Linked DNA regions of Homo sapiens: region 1 is linked to region 2. Evidence: fine-mapped expression QTL. Tissue or cell type: blood mononuclear cells. Region 2 holds a variant in brackets; the other region holds the start of a gene. All regions are shown on one strand. Distances are from middle to middle.

Region 1 (10,198 bases), 50 kb before region 2:
AAACTCCAGACACACCATCTTTAAGAGCTGTAACACTCACTGCAAGGGTCCATGGTTTCATTCTTGAAGTCAGTGAGACCAGGAACCCACCGGAAGGAATAAATTCCGGACACACTTTCATGCACATTACTAAGGCTACCCCTTGACAATAATCTGCCTACAGTCATAATTTGGGACAAAGATGATTCTAAAAATCATCTTTCTGGCATTTCATTCACTCATTAAATCATTCATTCACCTCAGGCATTGGTGGTTTTGTTTGTTTGAGACAGACTTGCTCTGTCACCCAGGGTGGAGTGCAGCAGCACGATCTGGGCTTACTGCAGCCTCTGCCTCCCAGGTTCAAGTGATTATCCTGCCTCGACTGACTCTTGCTCTGTCACCCAGGCTGGAGTGCAGCAGCACGAACTGGGCTCACTGCAGATACTGCCTCCCAGGTTCAAGTGATTTTCCTGCCTAAGCCTCAGACTATAGACATGCACCACCACACCTGGCGAATTTTTTTGTATTTTTTAGTAGAGACAGGGTTTCACCATGTTGGCCAGGCTGGTCTCAAACTCCTGACCTCAAGTGATCTGCCTGCCTTGGCCTCCCAAAGTGCTGGGATTACAGACTTGAGGTACCACACCCAACCTGGTTTTTATTTTTAAATTTTAATTAATTTATTTTAGTGATGGGGTCTTGCTACATTGCCCAGGCTGTTCCTTAACTCCTGGGCTCAAGCAATCCTCCCGGCTCAGCTGGAACTACATGTACGTGTCACTCTACCCAGCTCACCTGAGGTATTGAAATGGATGCTACACGTATAGTGGCAAAGAAAACACATGGTTCTCGCCCTTCTGGAGTTTATCTTGTGGTGGTAGGGAAAATAGTTAATAAGAAAACAAATATCATATATACATATAACTAATATATACATAATTTAAACTTAAGTATTATGGGGGAAACTGGACACAACAGAAGAGAATAACTTTGGATATTATTGGTGGTGGGGGGGCAGGTGGGGTGTTGGAGGGAGACCTACTTAAATAGGGTAGTTAGATCTTTGAGATGTGATGGTTGAGAAGGAGCCAGCCATGAGAAAAGGTAGGAGGGGTCCAGGCAAGGGCACAGCATGCATGAAAGCCTGAGAGCAGAGATAAATTAGCAAAGAAATGAAAGGCAGTTTCTGGGTTGGAGTGTCACAGGAAAAGGAAAAAAATGGTAAGACATGAGGTTGGAGAGGTAGGGAGGGGCCAGATCAAACAGGTTATTGTGACCATAATTAGGAATTTGTATGTAATGGGAAATGACAAAAGGGGTTTTAGAAGAAAATAATGTGACTTCACTTATATTTTCAAAATAATTTGACTGCTCTGTGGAGAATAGATTGAAAGAAGCATCCAAGATATTTGTGATACAGAAGAAGAGACATCAGGTAGATAAACAGACGTGTGTATAGAGCCCAAGGGAGAAGTGAAGGCTGGAGTTAAAAATCTGTGAGTCATTTCAACTATTCTTAGGGTTCCAACAAGAAATTGTAAAGATTTACAACCACCATCGTCACCACCTAGCCTTTATGTAGCAGTTTAATTTACCTTTGATCATCACAGTTCTCTGAAATGCCTAGTCTTGTAACTTTACAGATAAGTACCTGAAGCTCAGAGGAATTACTTGATTTGCTCACTATCTCTCAGCATGAGTCAGAATTTAAGCCAAGAGTTTTGACCACAAAGTCTATAATACTACCTCAACTATGAGGCAGGGTTTTGTAGTTCCATTTTAAAGGGATTAGAAAGAATATGAGTAACTGAATAAACTATGCAAGCTTTAAAAAAATACTTAACCTTATATTCTCTATTAAGCATATCTTAAAGCTTCCTGTTCTCCAATTCACCTTAAAGTATGGTAGTAAAACTAGGAATGTCAATGAATGGATGAGTTACTATGAAAGAACAGATATGACTTTGTGACTGATGGGACATAGGAGTTAGGGCAAGAATTAGAGCAAAAGAGACATGAAAATTACCCAAAAAGGAACATCATTGACAAGAATAGCCAACATTTCTATGGGATTTCTTATGTACCAGATAAAATTACACACACACAGACACACACACTGTCTCGGTTAAGCTATGAGATAGGATTGTAATTATCCCATTTTAAAGATGACGAAATTAAAGAACAGAGAAATAACTTGCTTAAAGTCATGCAGAATATTAGTGGTGAAGCTATGATTTAAATCCAGGCAGTTAAGATCCTAATTTTGTACTCTTAACCACTATGATACGTTGCCTACCAACTGGGGGAAATCAGTTGACAGAGGAGTTGGAAATACTCAGTTTAAATGATAGCAAGGTTCACAAGAAAGGGTGAACAGAATATCTGAAATTATGTTTAAGGCTATGGAATATAAATTTAGGAGCTATGAAATTATGAGGCAGGATTTTTGTTTTATGGAAATGTGGGATCTGGAAGTTGGAAAAGCTATTGGAAATATCCAATACAGGCTGGGTACAGTGGCTCGCGCCTGTTAATCCCAGCACTTTGGGTGGCTGAGGTGGGTGGATCACTTGAGGCCAGGAGTTCAAGACCAGCCTGGCCAACATGGTGGAACCCCATCTCTACTAAAAATACAAAAATTAGCTGGTGTGGTGGTGGGAGTCTGTAATCACAGCTACTTGGAAGGCTGAGGCACAAGAATTGCTTGAACCCGGGAGGCAGAGGTTTCAGTGAGCTGAGATCATGCCACTGTACTCCAGCTGGGCAACAGAGCAAGACTCTGTCTCAAAAAATCTGTCTCAAAAAAAAGACATATCCAGTACATTTTTTCTTTTCTTGGAGAGAATGTGGGAGAAAGGAGAAGCTGTGAACTGAACCATGGGAAATGTTCAAGCAGTGAGAGAGGACTGAGCAGAAAAACGGGGGATTATCAACAGGTCTTGGTAAATAATTAAATACAGTGAAAGAGGGAGGAGTCAAAGATGGACATGGTTTGATCTTGGTGACTGAGAGGACAATGAAATCATTAAAAAGGGCAAAGGTATTTTGAAGATAATATGTTCTAGATGATGGGGAATATAAGGAGGGATCAGTGTCTCTAGAATAAAATTCAAAAATCCATCCTAGGGAAAGCATTCAAGCCCTCTCTTGTCTGGCTGCAACCTACCTTATCAGTATTAATAACTTTGCCTCCGTCTTGCTACCTACCTCTTGTCAGTCGGGACTCTTGATTACATGTGAAAGAAAACCTCTCACTGGTTTAAGCAATAAAACAGATGCAAGAATTTACTGACTGGTTTAACGAAATTTCCAGAGGAATCTAATCTACATTTGTTTCCAGGCCTCAAACATGTCTTTAGGCCAAACCTGTCTTCAAATCTGCTTTTTTTCCGTGTTGCCTTCTTTCTCAGAATTCACGTGTGGAAAGATGGCTCCAGGTCTCCATTCTCCCAGATTTAAACCCATTGGTAAAGACGTAACACCCTTCTTAGGAACCGTAGTTTGCAACCGAGGATTAAACTCAAATATGCCTTCCCCTTGTGTCCTGCTCAGACCATATGGACTGAGAGTGGATAAATGATAGTTCTTCAAAAGAAATTATCAGAATAGGGAATGAATGCTGAACAGGCAAAAATGTCGACCAAAATATCTTCTGCTATATGATGGGGTAAATTAACAAATCATGTTTTCCCACTCCTGAAAGAAAAATCCTTAGGTGCAGGATCAAGGATCTGAATAAGTGCTTCAGTTTGATGTTCTTTTGCCCAGAGCATACAGCAAGAATTGAAAATGTTTACTGAGGTGACTGTTACTTTAAAGGGAGGATTTTACGGCCAGAAAAGTGCATTTTTTGAAAGAAAAAGATGGCTTTTATTTCAAATCCAAAAGATATTCATTAAAACATAGGAATTACTAGGAATTAAGACTGTAAAGATCTCTTTTCCAGTAGAAGCACTGAAATGTGCTTTCTCATGTGGACCAAATGTGCCTTAACGCATCAAGATAAGTAATTTCCCGAAGATAAGTAGTAGTCACACGTTGTTCCAACGAGGAAATCCATGCAAATTAGGGTCCTGGTTTATTTCTGATGCTTCATTCTCCATCTTCCATTACACTGTCACTTGATTTTTAATAAAAGGGCAAGGGAAAAATCTCCAAATGAGCAAATAAATCCCGACCTCCTTTCGCTTCCCTCCTCTGGCCGAGGGCGCATGCCCTGTCTCCCCAGGCCCACCCACCAAGAAGAAGCAACCCAAGCCGCGCTCCCTCAGGAGATGGGAGAAGATGTTACTGGCGGTCCAGGCGCCTTTGCAACTCTTCTCTCCCAGCACCAGGAGAGGAAACACGAATGATGCCACTGGGGGAAAAAGTCTCCTGCCAACACCCGAAAAATCTAAGCTGGCGTCGGCAGTGTTTTGCTTTGGAAGGGAGAGCGGGTTCCTTTTCTGGCCTCTGGATCCCTCATCCGGCAGGAAGCTCTTCTTCCTCCTCCTAGCCCCCGGCATACGGGGGGAAAGCCAAAGAGCCTCCAGGACCTAAGGCTAGCGCTCTGCCGGCCGGCCGCGCCCTCCACCCGACCAGGCCCCGCCTCCCCGGCTTTCTAGTAACCGGCGCCGTTCCCGGCCGGGGCAGGGAACGGTGCGCCTGCAGAGCCAGATTTCGGCCCAAGGGGCGCGGGAGTCTCTTCGGGCGTCCGGGATCCCCTGGCGCGGCTCCGTGCTGCCTAACGGGGCAAGTCGCATGCGCACCGAGCCGCGCTGGGGAAAGGGAGAGTGAGGGGAGGGGCGAGCGCAGAGCCTCCGCCGGCCGTCTGAGCCCGCGGGGTCGCTGACGACGCATGCGCCGGGAGGGGGCGCAATCACGGACTCGGCTTGCGGCTGCCGGTTTAAAAAAGGAAACCCCGGAGAGCGAGAGCGCGAAGGAAATCTGGCCGCCGCCGCCGCGAGCGCTCCCGGTGAGAGGCGCCCGCCCGGTGGGCCCAGGGCCTGCCGAGTGCCGGTTGGCTTCCTTGGCGGCGCATGCGCGCTCCTGGGCTGGTGGAGGAGGGGAAGGGAAGGGAGGGGGAGGAGGAGCTGGCCACAGGAGCGGCGAATTTTTGGGGGGGTGGGTGGGGGGCGCCACTCACAGCCCCAGGTGCTGCTGGAGGTGGGAGCCGCGGCGCCTCCTGGACACAGGCGGGGTAGTGGTTCCGAGTCACCGCAGCGGGAGACCTGGGTGGGGGAGGGAAGAAGCCGGAGCCGCCGCAAGCCACACGGTGAGGGCGCGGGGAAGGGGAGGGAGCGGGGGGCGGCGTGTGTGGGGCCGGGGGGCGGCGGCCAAGGGTGGGGAAGGCGGGAGCTGAAGCCCAAGTTTGGCGTGTCGTTCTAGTGTGTCTTTTCCCGGGACTTCGGGCCGAGGCCCGCCCTGCCTGAGAGGCCCTCTGGGGCAGCTGGGGTTACCTGCGGGGCAGGGGCGGGAGTGGGGTGCACGGCGGGGCCGGGCGGCTTGAGGGCGCCCGGAGCTGCGGCCGATTCCAGCAGCTGGGAGGCGGGGAAAGACGGGGACCGGGTGCCGAGAGAGCTTTCGCTGGGGACCCGCTAGGCCTTGTGACCCACTTTATTCCTGTCACCACTCGGGCACGTTTGGAGCAGCGCCCAATGGGGCGCCGGGGCGGCCAGCTCCTCCGGGGAACCCCCGCCCTCCCGGCGCCCGGCCCGCGTGCCGCAGTCCGCAGTCCGAACGGCCGCCGTTGCCGGCCGCGGGCTGGTTCCGTTAGTGGTGGTGGTTCCGGGGTTCCGTTCCTAGGCAGCGCGCGGCTATTAGCGTCTGACTCCAGCGACCGCGCGCGGGTTCGAGGGTTGGCGGCGAGGCGCTCGGTTTCTCTTCTTCCGTCCACCCGCGCTTCCCGTTCCCCGTCACCGCCGCTGGCGTTTGTAGATTTCTTTCCGCCAGTGAAGCTGGGTTTTCTGGAGTTGGCTCTGGCGCTCTGGCCCCTGGAGTGTAATTTCCTACACGCAGCGCCGCAGAGTTTATATTCTTTGAAAGTGTTTGTAGCTTTGTAGAGGTCCTCTTGTTGATGGTAGGTGAGCCTAATTCTGCAAGATAAAAGCCTAGTCTCTGACCTGGCAGATGAAAGATCAAATCAGATTGTGGTTTCCTGCTATTAGAATGCCGTGCTATTAGACTTTAAGGCTTTTTAGCCTTCTTTAAAAAATAAAAAAATTTTTACAGTGGAAGAAAAGCACAAGAAGTAAACTTTTACAGTCGTTGATTTGACTATAACGCTGATCCCCCCAAATCAAAGGTAATTTCACTTTGAAGATTGCGTTCTGATTTGTAGCTTTAAGCGATTAGAGAAAATTGTGCAATATTCCCCTCTACCTGTTTGAAAATAAACATTCTTAAAAGGATGTAATTTAGATAATGAATTGCTTTCTCTGAAACTTATCCCTTGGGACACCTCAAATCTGATTGGTTTTCAAAGCTTGGGGGAAGGAAATTAATTCCTGTGATAAGTGGTTGGCTGAACAGAATGTCTTGAAAGGTTAGCCTGTAGCATTAGGAGAAATACCTAATGTAAACGACGAGTTAATGGGTGCAGCACACCAGCGTGGCACATTTATACATATGTGACAAACCTGCACGTTGTGCACATGTACCCTAGAACTTAAAGTATAATAATAAAAAAAGTAAAAAAAAAAAAAGTTAGCCTGAAGAAAGCAGACTGAAAATGTTCTAAAGCTAGGCGTAATCAGTTATGAAAAAAGAATAAGGAAGCTTTCTACGTACTAACATGCAAAGATTGCAAAAATTTGCTATGAAGTGAAAAAAGCAAGGTGTAGCGGTACTTTGTGAATAGTGTGTTACATCTTAAGGGCGAGGTGTAATAATACAAGTTTATGTTTGCTCTTTATATAAAGAAATTATGGGAGGATTTAGAAAACTAACAATAGAGGAGAGGGAGAAATAGTCTGAGGGAATGGTGGGAAATGAGATGTATTATGTGTATGTCTTCATGTTTTCAAATTTTTGTGTGTATTATGGACTCATAAACTGGATTAAACAAAAATCCTCCTCCCCCAAATAATTTGTGTGATTTTTGTTGCCTAATTTATGGTGATTTGAGTCATTTTCAATATGATTGCTTTTCATATTTTTTAGGAAAATCAACTAAAAAGGAAGTTTGGGATACCTTTTATGACTATTTACACTTTAATTTTTAAGATTGCAGAGGTCACAGGCATTTATCTTTTAAAGATGTTTAGTTATATCTTGCCTTGCTAAAATATATGACTGTTTACATTTGGCATTATGGCTGGATTATGCTGCTTTCAGAGTGTAGTTTGTGTTTCCCCCTCCTCTTTTTTTCAGGAGTCATAGATGGGTAAAATTTTACTTAACCCCAAAGTTTCATGACAAACAATTATGAGGAGGATGTGAACATTCCCTTAAAGTGCTAGTAAACTTGATTGTCTAGGTTAGTTTGCTTTTCAGGTTGGGAAACTTTTCTTTCTTTTGAGGAAATCAAACATGAACCCCAGTGAAAGGTAAATTGGGGTGTGTGTGTGTGTGTGTGTGTGTGTGTGTGTGTCTGGTTGTTTCTCATGAAAGTGTACAAAATGAACATTTTTTTAGGACTGGATTGTTGAAAACCTGTTTAATGAGGTTAAGACTGCACAGGCAGCTGTTAGATGAGATATAATTTTGGGAGGGGACCCTCAAACTCCCCCTGGTGACTAATATTGTGTAATGAAAGTAGTGAATAGTGAGTAATGGATTGCAGTTGCTGTGGGCATTTTTGTAATATTACCAGTATTCCTTTTTATTTTGTAGGATAGGATACTTATATTATTTCTGTTTGATATGTAGGTTTTTCTAATAGACTTCTGCAAAGTGTCACTTATTTTTCATTTGAATTCCATGTGGGTCCGTTCAATCTTTTTTAAAAATGGAATTACATTTCAATTTTTTTTTTTTTTGGAGACGGAGTCTTGCTCTGTCACCAGGCCGGAGTGCAGTGGCACGATCTTGGCTCACTGCAACCTCCGGCTCCCAGGTTCAAGAGATTCTCCTGCCTCAGCCTCCCGAGTAGCTGGGACTCTTATTTTTAAAATTACAGAAGTAAATTGATGCTCATAAAAAGTTAATACAGTGTATATATAATAAGTGACAACCCCTTTACATCCACTTCTAGCTCACATTCCTCCCCAGAGGAATCTAGGGAGCACAGCTACTCGTATACCCTTGACTGAAGGGTAACACTGTTAACACCACTGTATGATCTTGTAGATCTTTTTCTGTGCATTTGCAAATATGTTCTTTTCAGCCTTGAAAACGGAATCATCTTGAATGATCATCTGCTTTGCCATTTTGCCTCCAGTATGGGCTCTGTTATTACCTACAGGACAGGGACATGACTTGGAGCCTGTCAGAAAGCTTAACATCTGATATAGACCATAGGTCATACTCATCTTTTCACTAGTGAGGGGCCAATTGTTATGGAGGCATTTGCAGAGTTTGAAGGGAGGTCATACTGATGTGAGTTTTATCTGGTATAGATTTAATTCACTGTAAACTTCGAGCGGCCGAGGTGGGAGAATGGCTTGAGCCCAGGATTTCAGGACCAGCCTGGGCAACATAGTGAGACCTCTTTGCTACAAAATTTTTTTAAAAAAAATTAGCCAGATGGGGTGGTGCACACCGTAGTTTCAGCTAATTGGGAGGCTGAGGTGGAGGGATCACTTGAACCCAGGAGTTCAGCCTTGGTGACAGAGTGACACCCTGTTTTAAACAAAACAAACCCAAAAGGTGCTTGGATTCCATGAATTTTATAGGACTCTTTAGAGTCCAAGTTTTAGGGTTTTCTTTGGCTTTTGACTTGATCGATAGTGTATGGGTTAAACTTTGATTTTTTTTCCTTCTGTACTTGCTTGCAGACTCCTACGAAAGCCTCGTAGATTACACCAGCCTCTTGAGCTCCTCTGAAGTGAACCTAAGCAGACTGTCCTTAACTAAGGGACACTGATACTGACTTGGATAAAATTTAGCTTTTGAAGGGAAAAGGAGAGAAGAGGCTCTTTGGTTTGGCTTTTGCTTAACTGACAACAAACAACTAATATGCACTACCCTCTCCTCCATCCATCCCTCTGGTTCTCTAATAGTTCCAGAGGGTTTGTTTTAAACCAGGTTACAAAGAATTACCAAACCTTAATTCTTTTTAGCTGATGGAGTTTGCAAAAAGTTCAGAGTATTGATCAAGACTATTTACTATGGGAGATACCTAGAAAGATGCAGTATAATTGACCCTGCCTTCAGTGGTTTTGAAATCTAGTATGGTTAAAACAGCATAGACATTAATAATAATAATAATAATAATATTATTATTATTATTATTATTATTATTATTATTATTTGAGACAGAGTCTCTCTCTGTCACCCGGGCTGGAGTGCAGTGGCGTGATCTCAGCTCACTGCAACCTCCGCCTCCTTGGTTCAAGCGATTCTCCTGCCTTAGCCCTCCAAGAGTAGCTGGGATTACAGGTATCTGCCACCACACCCGGCTAATTTTTGTATTTTTAGTAGACAACGGTGTTTCTCCATGTTGGCCGGGCTGGTCTCAAACTGCTGACCTCAGGTGATCCGCCCACCTCGGCCTCCCAAAGTGCTGGGATTACAGGCATGAGCCACCATGCCCAACTGAAAAGCATAGACATTATAACACAAGGTGGAAAATGATAGATTTTATAAGAAAATTACATACAACATTTGTAAGGATGAGCCTATTTCTGGCTGTTTTTTTTTTTTTTGGTGGGGGGAGAGGCATGGGATTTTGAGGGAGAATACGTATCTTAACCTTTTAATTAGTTAAGAAAGGAAACTTAGATCTTAGCTCTTGATAACGTAAGGAGTTGTTATGTTCTTTTAGCAGGCATCTGTGAGACTGATAGCTATTTCAGTAGTTTTTTTTAAGCTTTCCCGCTGGAAAGAACCATTTGATGTTTTATTTGATAATTATAATACAGCCTCTTTAATCATTTCAGGATTGCTAGAAAAATTAGGAAATTAAATCCTATCAGTTAACTGTTGTCTACCATCAAATATGTCAGCCAGTGTTAATATTAAAAGAAAATTGTTTCCTCTTATCTCAATCTTGAAGCATATATATTATGTCACCTCTTCCACACATTTTTACTTCTAGTGCTGTGTCAAATAAAGCATTTATTTACTGTGACTATTT
Region 2 (10,198 bases):
AGAGATTATATTCCAGGACTACCAAATAGTTAAGAGGGAAAGCATATCTTTAGAAGAATTGTAGCTATTAAGTAACATTGGAGGTCAGATGTGGTGGCCCATGCCTGTAATCCAAACACTTTGGCAGGCTGAGGTGGGAGGATTGCTTGAGCTCAGTAGTTTGAGATCAGCCTGGGCAACATAGCAAGACCTCGTCTCTTCTAAAAACACAAAAATTAGCCCTAGGCATGGTGGTGCATGCCTGTAGTCTCGGCTGCTGAGGAGGCTGAGGCAGGAGGATCACTTGAACCCAGGAGATCGAGGCTGCAGTGAGCTGAGATTGTGCCACTGCACTCCAGCCTGGGTGACAGAATAAGACCCTGTCTCAAAAACAAGCGCAAAAACAGACAAACAAACAGAAACACTGGAGAACGATCGGCTTACAAACTCACCACAGTGCATACTCCTAATGAAATAATGATTCTAGATAACAATTAGTCGTGACTACTAAAGCCATTAGGTGAAATTTAATTGGGAAATGGATAAAACATAATGGATAGGCAAAAGTGGAGTAAGCCTCTCTGATTAGAACTTAAAACCCCGGTTAGGCCGATGCTATGGCTCATGCCTTTAATCCCAGCAATTTGGGAGGTCACGGCAGGAGGATTGCTTGAGCCCAGGAGTTAGAGACCAGCCTGGGCAACATAATGAGATCTTGTCTCTGCAAAAAATTAAAAAGTTAAAAATCAATAGGGCATGATGGTGTGTACCTGTAATCCCAGCTACATTGGGAGGCTGAGGCAGGGAATTGCTTGAGCCCAGGAGGTCGAGGCTGCAGTGAGCTGTGTTCACACCACTGCACTGCAGCCTTGGTGAGAGAGTGAGGCCCTATCTCAAAACACACCACTCCCCCCAAACAAAACAAAAACAACAACAAAAACCCTCTAGATAGAAACAAAAACAATTATCTGAAGACTTTCGAAAGTAAACAGTAATAGGCAAACTGAGAAGGGAAGTCAAAACCTGAATAGCTTGTGTAGTGCTTAGCTTACCATTTTTTTTTTCTTTTTGTTATCCAGCTTTAACCAAATGGTAGGCTGGGTTGTAGAAGTACATGTTGAGTGCAGCAGTTAGCAAAAACTCCAAGAGAAACCCTTTATTTCTAGTCATAGGACAAAGAAAATTCCCCCCTTTTTTTCTCTCCCAGCTGTGCCCTGAGACCATCTCCATTTGTAAAATTACATTGCCATAGTGGTATATGTACTTAAAATCCCAAGAAGAAAGCCGTCTCTCTGGCCAGAGGAATTGGGAAAGAGAACTCTGGAAGCTGGAGCATGCTTTGGAAGTCTCAAAGAGAAGACACCTAGTTTGGGGGGAGATTCCCTAATTGCATGTATGAACACACAAAGGTCCTACCTACTGCATCCATGAGCTACACGTACATGGAACAGAGCGAAAGAAACATGGCAAAGACCTAGAGAGCTGAACTATGGTGTAAACCACTGCTCAAATCCCAGAGTTGCCCCTGAGAGATGCATGCGGAGGATAGATTTAAGCAGCATTGTGAACGCTTTGAAAACTGAAACAACGATTGGTACTGTGGCCTGTTAGGAACCAGGCCGCACAGCAGGAGGTAGGTGACTGGCTAGTGAGCATTAGCGCCTGAGCTCCGCCTCCTGTCATATCAGTAGCAGCATTAGATTCTCATAGGAGCGTGAACCCTGCAGTGAACTGCGAGTGCAAGGGATCTAGGTTGTATGCTCCTTATGAGAATCTAACTTAACAAGTGTGATGATCTGAAGTGGAACAGTTTTGTCCAGAAACCATCCCTAACAAGTGTGATGATCTGAAGTGGAACAGTTTTGTCCAGAAACCATCCCCGCTGTCCATGGAAAAATTGTATTGCATGAAACCAGTCGCTGGTGCCAAAAAGGTTGAGGACTGCTGCTTTAGAGGATGTTAATGGAACCTAGAATCTCATAACTTAATATCTAGAATGTCCAGGATATGATCCAAAATTACTTGACATACAAAGAAACAGTAAAATCTGACCATTTTTAAAGGAAAAAGAACATAAGCCAGTTGACAACTCTGAGATGATCCAGATGATGGAATTATCAGAAAAAAGCCTTAAAGTACTCATGTTCATGAGGTAAAAGTGAACACTTCTGAAAGGAGTGTAAAAATAGTTCTCTGAAAAATAAAAACTATATGAAATAATCAAATGGAAATTTCAGAGCTGAAAAATACAATATATGAAATACAGATGTACTGCATGGGCTCAGTAACAATGGAGATGACAGAAGAGTCAGTGAGCTTAAAGATGAATCAGTAGAAATCCCATCAGATCTCGTGTCTTCTGTATCAAGAGTATATGTCTGTTCTATAATATACTTGTTATGTCCATGTTGGATTCTGTGAAACCTGGTCACAGGCCTTCTGGCTGGTGGATTCTTGTACTACCTACACGTCCTCATTTATCCTATATTTACTCCTACTTACGTGATGCAAAGACCTATGCAGTTTGAGCCCCATCTCCCCTGCCACTCCACAGATTGAGATATGGTCTTGGCCTGCCATTTTCCACACCTTGTCATTTTAGGGTAAGGATCAAACAGTCAGTGGGTTAAAATAATAATAATAATAATAATAAGGAACTAGATAGATCAATTTTTTAAATTTGAAAGCTTTGAAAGTAAATAGGGACAGAAAAGCAGAAATGGGTAACATATGTATAAATTATATATTGCAAAATCTTCTAGTTCAAAGGGATTACATTTTTTCCTAAATATAAACTTAGATATAATGATTATTTTAGTGAAGAAGACATGCTTTATGGTAGTTTTTTTCTGAATTATCTGTGGTTCAGGATGCATCTAAACTTCTTTGAAATACTTTTCAGATGATTTTGAATTTGCCGGGCCTACTTGGCTACACAAAAGCAGCTGGCAGTTTACCCGAGTTTTAATAAGTCAAAACAACTGTCTTTTCAGTGAAATGATTATTGCACAAAGGGGAATACTTGTGGCCTTGAAAATTGATGCATTTTTTGGTGGTGTTTTAAGTGGCTCTGGTGACCTCATAGATGTAGTACATAATATGTCAAACATTGTCATTATATTTATACATATTAGTTGTATGTTATTAAACAACTCATGAATTAGCTCTAAACCTAGCATTGTCAAAGTACTACTTAATAATCCGATTTCCTAAGAGGTCCCTAGAGGATTTATAGTACTAATGAAATTCTGTACTTCTTTTAGGTTGCTAAAATTCTGTATCTCTTTTTTTTTTTTCTGGAGATCCATCTCAGAAATCTATATACATTTGCCCTTTTAAAAAATAGGCTTCTACAAAGTCTGGGGTTTAATTCATCTTTTTTGGACAATCTGTTTAGTGCATATAAATTACATCATATGTGTTTATGGTGTAACAATTAGTTTTCCAAAAGGGGAAATATGTGCTAGTATTCATTTGGACATTGACAGATTTTTCCGTTCAGAAGAATATCCCTAGAGCCTGTTGCTACCATATAGCAATAAAGTTAGACTTTAGTTACAGTTGAACGCATGCAGCCTGAATTGTCATACACATTATTTTCCAATTCCCTTTAAGAAATATGAAAGGTTAAGATAGTTCAGAAGTTAAGAACTACTGGCATAGTACTGTAGTCTTTTATCTATTAATAGATCAAATTATCCTTTGATGTTTCACCTTTCCCCTCAAAAAATATTTGATTTTGTCTTTGCCAAACAGAGACTTTTTGGTCCATGGTACGTGGTAGGCAGAATACTGACCCTTCAGAGAGGTTCATATCCTGATTCCTGGAACCTGCCACTATGTTAGGGTACATGGCAAGGAATAATTAAGGTTGCTAATCAGTTAACCATAAAATATGGAGGTTATCTTAGATTATCTATGTGGGCTTAATGTAATAAGGGAAGAAAGAGGCAGAAGAAATGGCAGCCCGAGAAGGACTTGGCCTCCTGCTGGCTTGAAGATGGAGTAGAGGGAGCTATGAGCTAAAGAATACGGGTGGCCTCTAAAGCTTGAAAAGGCAAGGAAACATTCTCTGCTAGAGCTTACAGGAGGGAATTCAGCCCTGCCAACACCTCGGTTTTAGCCCACCTTGATTTTAGCCCAGTGAGACCTATATTGGGCTCTCACCAACAGAACTGTAAGATAGTAAATTTGTGTTGTTTTAATCCATTAACTTTGTGATAATTTTTATAGAGGCCATAGGAAGCACATAGTACCTCTTCAGTTTTTCACTAATAACATAAAGTTTATATCATGATTAGTTGAATCTTGATGTGAATGACAATATGATTTTCTGTGAAGGTCAATTCCAGTTTATTGTATTAAGATATTTATGTTGATAATATATTGGGTACTGGTGGACAAACCTTTGTTTTACGTAGAGGTCTTTATTTTCTACTATCTAGGAATGGTGACGTGATTCCTTAGTGTAGCTGGAGAATAAGGAGTCTGTGTACAGTAAAGTAGAATGGGAAATGAGGAAGGAGAAATAAGACTAAAGCTAGAAAGGAAAATTGGTGTCTTGGAATGTGATAAATAATCTTCAGAAGCCTTAGAGCCCTGAACAAGTTTTTCATTATTTGCATTATATGTGTTTGTGTTAGTAAATACTGTAAATTGGAATTTTAAAAAGTTTTTATAGTCAGCACAACTTGAACTATATTAAAGTGGTAAGCAATCATTACATTTTGCCACAGAATAGCTTATCAATATGATAAGTGTATAAAGGACTCAGTGGTCAAAAGGAAGGCTAGAGTTTAGAGAAACATGAAAAAGAATGAAGCATTTCTCATAGAAGGTAATTAACAACATAACCAATCATTGACTGTCACTATGTTTAGTCTTCCCGACCATGTCAAATAAACTTGCTTTACTCCCTTGTGCCTTTACTAGGAAGAGAAACTGAGGCTCCAACAAAGATTATGAGCTGGCACAGTTTTTTTTTTCTTTTTAAAGACCCAACATAAATAAGTTAGAGCTATA[T/G]TGTCAGTTTTTTTGTTTTTGTTTTTTGATTGTTTCTTTTTTTTTTGAGACGACCTCTCGCTCTGTCACCTAGGATGGAGTGCTGTGGAGCAATCTTGGCTCAATGCAACCTCCACCTCCCGGGTTCAAGCGATTCTCCTGCCTTAGCCTCCCAAGTAGTTGGGATTACAGGCGCCTGCCACCACGCCCGGCTAATTTTTGTATTTTTAGTAGAGACGGGGTTTCACCATGTTGGCCAGGCTGGTCTTGAACTCCTGACCTCAGGTGATCCACCCACCTTGACCTCCCAAAGTGCTGGGATTACAGGTGTGAGCCACTGCGCCCAGCAGTTTTTTTGTTTTTTTAAAAAAAGTTTGTGTTTTTTGTCTTTTTGCATCAGGTGGATCACATGCTATCCCAGTTTGTGAGAGAGGGCTTAGATGCTTAAAATTGAGGATACGGAGGGTCTTTTGGATATTAGTAATGGTGAATTCTGGGGTAACACTAGCAGAATGAGTGGGAGGTGGGGTGGAACACAAAATTGTTGCAGAAGAGATCAAGGAACTCACTGGCCAGTTTTGGGGGATCATTTTGTGTACATTGAAATTCAAAAGAGGTATTGGAGAGGGTCACACCCTTCGTGGAGTGAAGGGGCTTATCCTGGGGTTTGTGAATGACTACAATAAGGAGGGGATAATAGCTGATGTAGTCTGGTGGCATGAGAGTCAAAGCTAAGGTTTTAGGGAGGGAGAGAATAATTCAGAAATGACAGTGAGTTACAAGGAAGTTCACCCCACCAACAGGGCTTGGTCATCTGAGATATGGGAGAGTAAATATATTTTATCTCACATGAGAGAGAAGCCATTGTTTGAAAGGGCTGGAGTTAGAGCAGAACTCCCAGAGGGGAGAGAGGTTACAGCTGGGAGCAAGTAAGGTGAAGAGTGTGCAACAACAATACTGAGGAAATAGGATATTTTAACGACGATGTGTACCATGAGTTCCAGAAGACACTGCGAAAGGATTTCGGGAATTGGGGGAGGAAGAGAAAAGGGGTCAGTGTAGGGACATACAGAGTATATAGGGATGAAAGTATATAGGGATGGGGGATGACTTGGGAGTCTTGGGCATTTCTTGTTGACTGATGTAAAAAGAATGGAGGGCATAATGGGATTCTCTTTGATGATCTCCTATGCAGGTTGCTGTAAATACTGAAAGGGAAGTGTTGGTGAGAGCCAGGTTTATCGAGAGAAACCGGATTCTGTATAGTTTTCTGTTGCTACCATACAAATAACCACAAACTTAATGGCTTAAGACAATACAAATTTATTGTTTTACAGTTCTGCAGCTCAGAAGGCCAACACAAATCTCACTGACCTGAACCCAAGGTGTCAGCGGGCTGCATTTCTCTCTGGAGGCTTCAGGAGAAAATCTGTTTCCTTGTTTTTTCCAGCTTGTAGAGGCTACCTGAATTCCTTGGCTTGTGGCCACCTTCTTTCACTTTCAAAGCCAGCAACTTTGCATCTTTTTAAAAGAATTATCATTTCAGTAGGTTTTTGGGGAACAGGGGGTGTTTGGTTACATGGATAAGTTCTTTAGTGGTGATTTCTGAGATTTTGGTGCACCCATCACCTGAGCACTGTTCCCAATGTATGGTCTTTTATCCCTCATCCCCCCTCCTATCCTTCCCTTCTCCCCGAGTCCCCATGGTCCATTGTATCATTCTTATGCCTTTAACTTGCCATCTTTTTGACCGTTCTTTCTGATATATCAAACCACAGCTAGGAAAGGTCCTTTCCTCTTAAGAACTCACGTGATTATTTTGGACCCACTTGGATAATGCAGGATAATCTCCACATCTCAAGATCCTTATCCTTAATCACATCTGCAGTGTCCTTTTTTGCCATGTGACATAACATCTTCATAAGGTCCAGGGAAGAGGGAATGGACATTCTTCGGAGGCTGTTATTCTGCCTACCACAGGGCTCCCTCTTTCTTCCTGCTGGTGTCAGGATGAAGGCCAGGTGTAGAGTCGTATAGCTTCAGGTTTATGGTACCTGATTACATGTGAAATTCATTCTGAGGCTTGTGCTCTCCCTCCACCTTCAGGTTTTATGTGGGGCTTACTTGGGGCTGAGGACAGATGTAGGCCTTAGTCTTATCTCTGAAAAGGGGATAAGGTGCTCCTATACTCTGTGGGCAAGATCAGTCTGTTATATGAATACAAAGCTCAGACATTACTTGAAAAATATATATTAGTTGAATCGTTGGAATAGTATTGTCCCACTAAGAGAACTGTATTAATTTTTTAGTTTTTGTTTATTTAATGAGGTTTAGTGAATATCTTACATCTTGACATTCAGCAGGCTAGAGTTATAGTGTCAGTTGATGTTTGTCTTGAGCCAGAATCCTCTCTGGTTTTAAGAGGTCTGGTTCATAAAACTGGTTTGGGATGTGGTTCTTATTCTTACAGGTCAGTTTTCAAATTTAAATTGATTGTAGAGATAGCTGTAAAACCAAATATGTGTTTTATTTTGCCAATATCTTATATCGGTTGTAGAGGTGGCTAATACATTCAATATTGAATAAATTGAGAACCACTGTTTAATTTCATTTTTTCCTCGTACATTAAACAACGAATCTAAAAAGTATTAAATATTTGGGCCTTTCTTTGCAAGTTAAAATAGTTTTTCTCTTAGAAATAATTACTGTTTCAGTTATAATACAAAATCAGTAATCTGCAGAAGCAAGTTAGAATTTTTCATAAGTGGTAATAAAAGTAGTTAAGGTTTGTTCCTTAGGTTTTGTATTATACCGGTCAATTAAATTTCAGCACTACTTTTAATTAATGTTAATAGATCCGTCAGTTCCCGAAATACCTGTGGTATCAGAATTAACAAACCTAAATTCCAAAGTAGGTCAGTGGGTCAGTAGGTTATTAGGTTAGGGAAAAACTGTAGTTTTAATTTTTAAAATTCAAATTCCTGAGTTAGCCATTTTTAATTAATAATTTTAAAATTATTAACTAGATGAAACTTTGTTTTCTTTAAATGGCTAGAAAAATAGTCTCTGTTAAGTTTTTGTTCTCTGGAATAGATAACAGGTTGTGTTTTATCTTATTTGCCTCCTCATGTATAGCTAGGCCTCTAGTATTGGACAATTAAAAGAAAAAGAAAAAAAATGCAGCACTTAAGCTTTCTGATTATAAAAGTAATGCATGTTCATGGGAGAAATTTTAGAAAGTACTAAAGAAAGAACAAAAAACACCATCCATAAACTACCTAGGAGCAATCACAGTTGATACTTTTGCTATATTCAGGTTTATGTCTGATATATTTTCATGCCACTGTTAATGCAGTTAGACATTTAAATTTGTTCTAGCTTTACTGTTTTTATTTTATTTTATTTTTTTTAGAGACAGAATCTCGCTCTGTCACCCAGGTCAGAGTGCAGTGGCGCTATCTCGGCTCACTGCAACCTCCGCTTCCTGGGTTCAAGCGATTCTCCTGCCTCACCCTCCCGAGTAACTGGGATTACAGGCGTGTGCCACCATGCCCAGCTAATTTTTATATTTGTAGTAGAGATGGGGTTTCACCATATTAGCCAGGCTGTTTTTGAACTCATGACCTCAAGTGATCTACCCACCTTAGCCTCCCAAAGTGCTAGGATTACAGGCATGAGCCACTGTGACTGGCCTAGCTTTATTATTTTTAATAATATCTCAATGAATATAAAAGTTTAGATGCATCTTTGATTATTTTATTATTTCTCAAAGTGAAATTACTGAGTCAAAGGGCATAATTTTCAAACCAATTTATTTTTTAAGAAAGAGAAATTCCTCCTTTTCTTGGTTTATAAATTCCTTCTATTCCTAGTTTGTTGAATGGCGTTTTTTTTTTTTATCATGAATAGGTGTTGGATTTTGTTAAATGCTTTTTCTGCATCAATTGAGATCCCTCATACGATTTTTATCCTTGGTTTTGTTGATGTGGTGTAGCACATGGATTGGTTTTATTAATATATGTTGAACCTTGCTCAAATCCCAGGGATAAATACCACCTGGTCATGTGGTATAATCCTTTTAATTTACTGTTGCGTTTGGATTGGTAGTATTTTGTTGAGAATTTTTCATCAATATGCATAAGGAATATTGGTCTATAGTTTTTTTCTTATGGTGTCTTTGGCTTTGATATCAGCATAATGCTGGCTTCATAAAGAGTTTGAAAATGTTCCCTTTTCAGTTTGTTGGAAGCATTTGAGGGGGATTGGTATTAATTCTTTCAGTGTTTGGTAGAATTCTTCAGTGAAGTCATGTATATGGTCCTGGCTTTTCTTCATTGGGAAGTTTTTGATTCAATATAATTACAAGTTATATGTGTCTGCTCAGATTTTCTTTTTTTATTTTATCATTCTGACTTACTGATTAATTTGTCTATTCTTAAAAAAACTATGTACTCTCTTGTAAAGTCATCTGTGCTGTTGCATGCAGTCTTCTCTTTGTTGTATAGCATTCCATTATATGAATACCACATTTTGTTTATCCATTGTACTGTCAATGAACATCTGGATTGTTTATAGTTTTAGACCATTATGAATAAATCTGCTGTGAACTCTGTTCACATTTTTCTATTCATGATTCAGCCTTCGTGGTAGATGGCATATTTCTAGGAATTTATCCATTTTTTCTAGGTTATCTAATTTGTTGGTGTATATTTATTGAGTTGTCTCAAAAAAATACTTTTTTATTTCTGTGACATCAGTTGTAATTTCTCCTTTTATTTCTGATTTTGAGTCTTCTCTTATTCCTAGTGTAGCTAAAGATTTGTCAATTTTGTTAGTCTTTTCAAAGAAACAACTCTTAGTTTTGTTGATTTTTTTTTTTTCCTATTCACTGTTTTATTTCTACTCTAATCATATTTCCTTCCTTCTGCTCTCTATGGGCTTTGTTCTTCTTTTTCTAGTTCTTTGAGGTATAAAGTTGCATTGTTTGAGATCTTTCCTTTTTTTTTTTTTTTTTTTTTTTTAGCACACCTGCAGGAATCTTTCTTCATTTTTAATGCAGTCATTGACTGAAATAAGATTCCCTGTCAGAACACTTTTGCTGCATCCCATACATTTTGGTATGTTGTGTTTTCGTTTGTCTCAAGATGTTTTCTAATTTCTCTTTTGATGTCTTCCTTGACTCTTTGGTTATTCAACAGTGTGTTTAAATTTCATCTGC

The links. PIP is the estimated chance that this variant, and not a neighbour inherited with it, causes the effect.
Region 1: it holds the start of CLOCK, and the variant in region 2 is fine-mapped to the expression of CLOCK in blood mononuclear cells (TOPMed, PIP above 0.99).

What each region holds. Positions count from the first base shown.
Region 1 is chr4:55,541,520-55,551,717 of GRCh38, reverse strand. It overlaps CLOCK (clock circadian regulator), which reads left to right and starts at 4,809. Exons shown (of 23, transcript NM_004898.4): 1 at 4,809-4,936. It overlaps LOC124900704 (a long non-coding RNA gene), which reads right to left and starts at 5,853. Exons shown (of 2, transcript XR_007058122.1): 1 at 5,108-5,853; 2 at 3,829-4,102. RefSeq lists silencers at 4,534-4,903, 4,964-5,063, 5,184-5,813.
Region 2 is chr4:55,491,038-55,501,235 of GRCh38, reverse strand. All of the region lies in intron 2 of CLOCK (clock circadian regulator), which reads left to right. Among named protein-coding and RNA genes, the nearest start is that of CLOCK, 51 kb to the left of the region's middle. RefSeq lists an enhancer at 1,480-1,774. The variant T/G (reference allele first, on the strand shown) is at 5,002.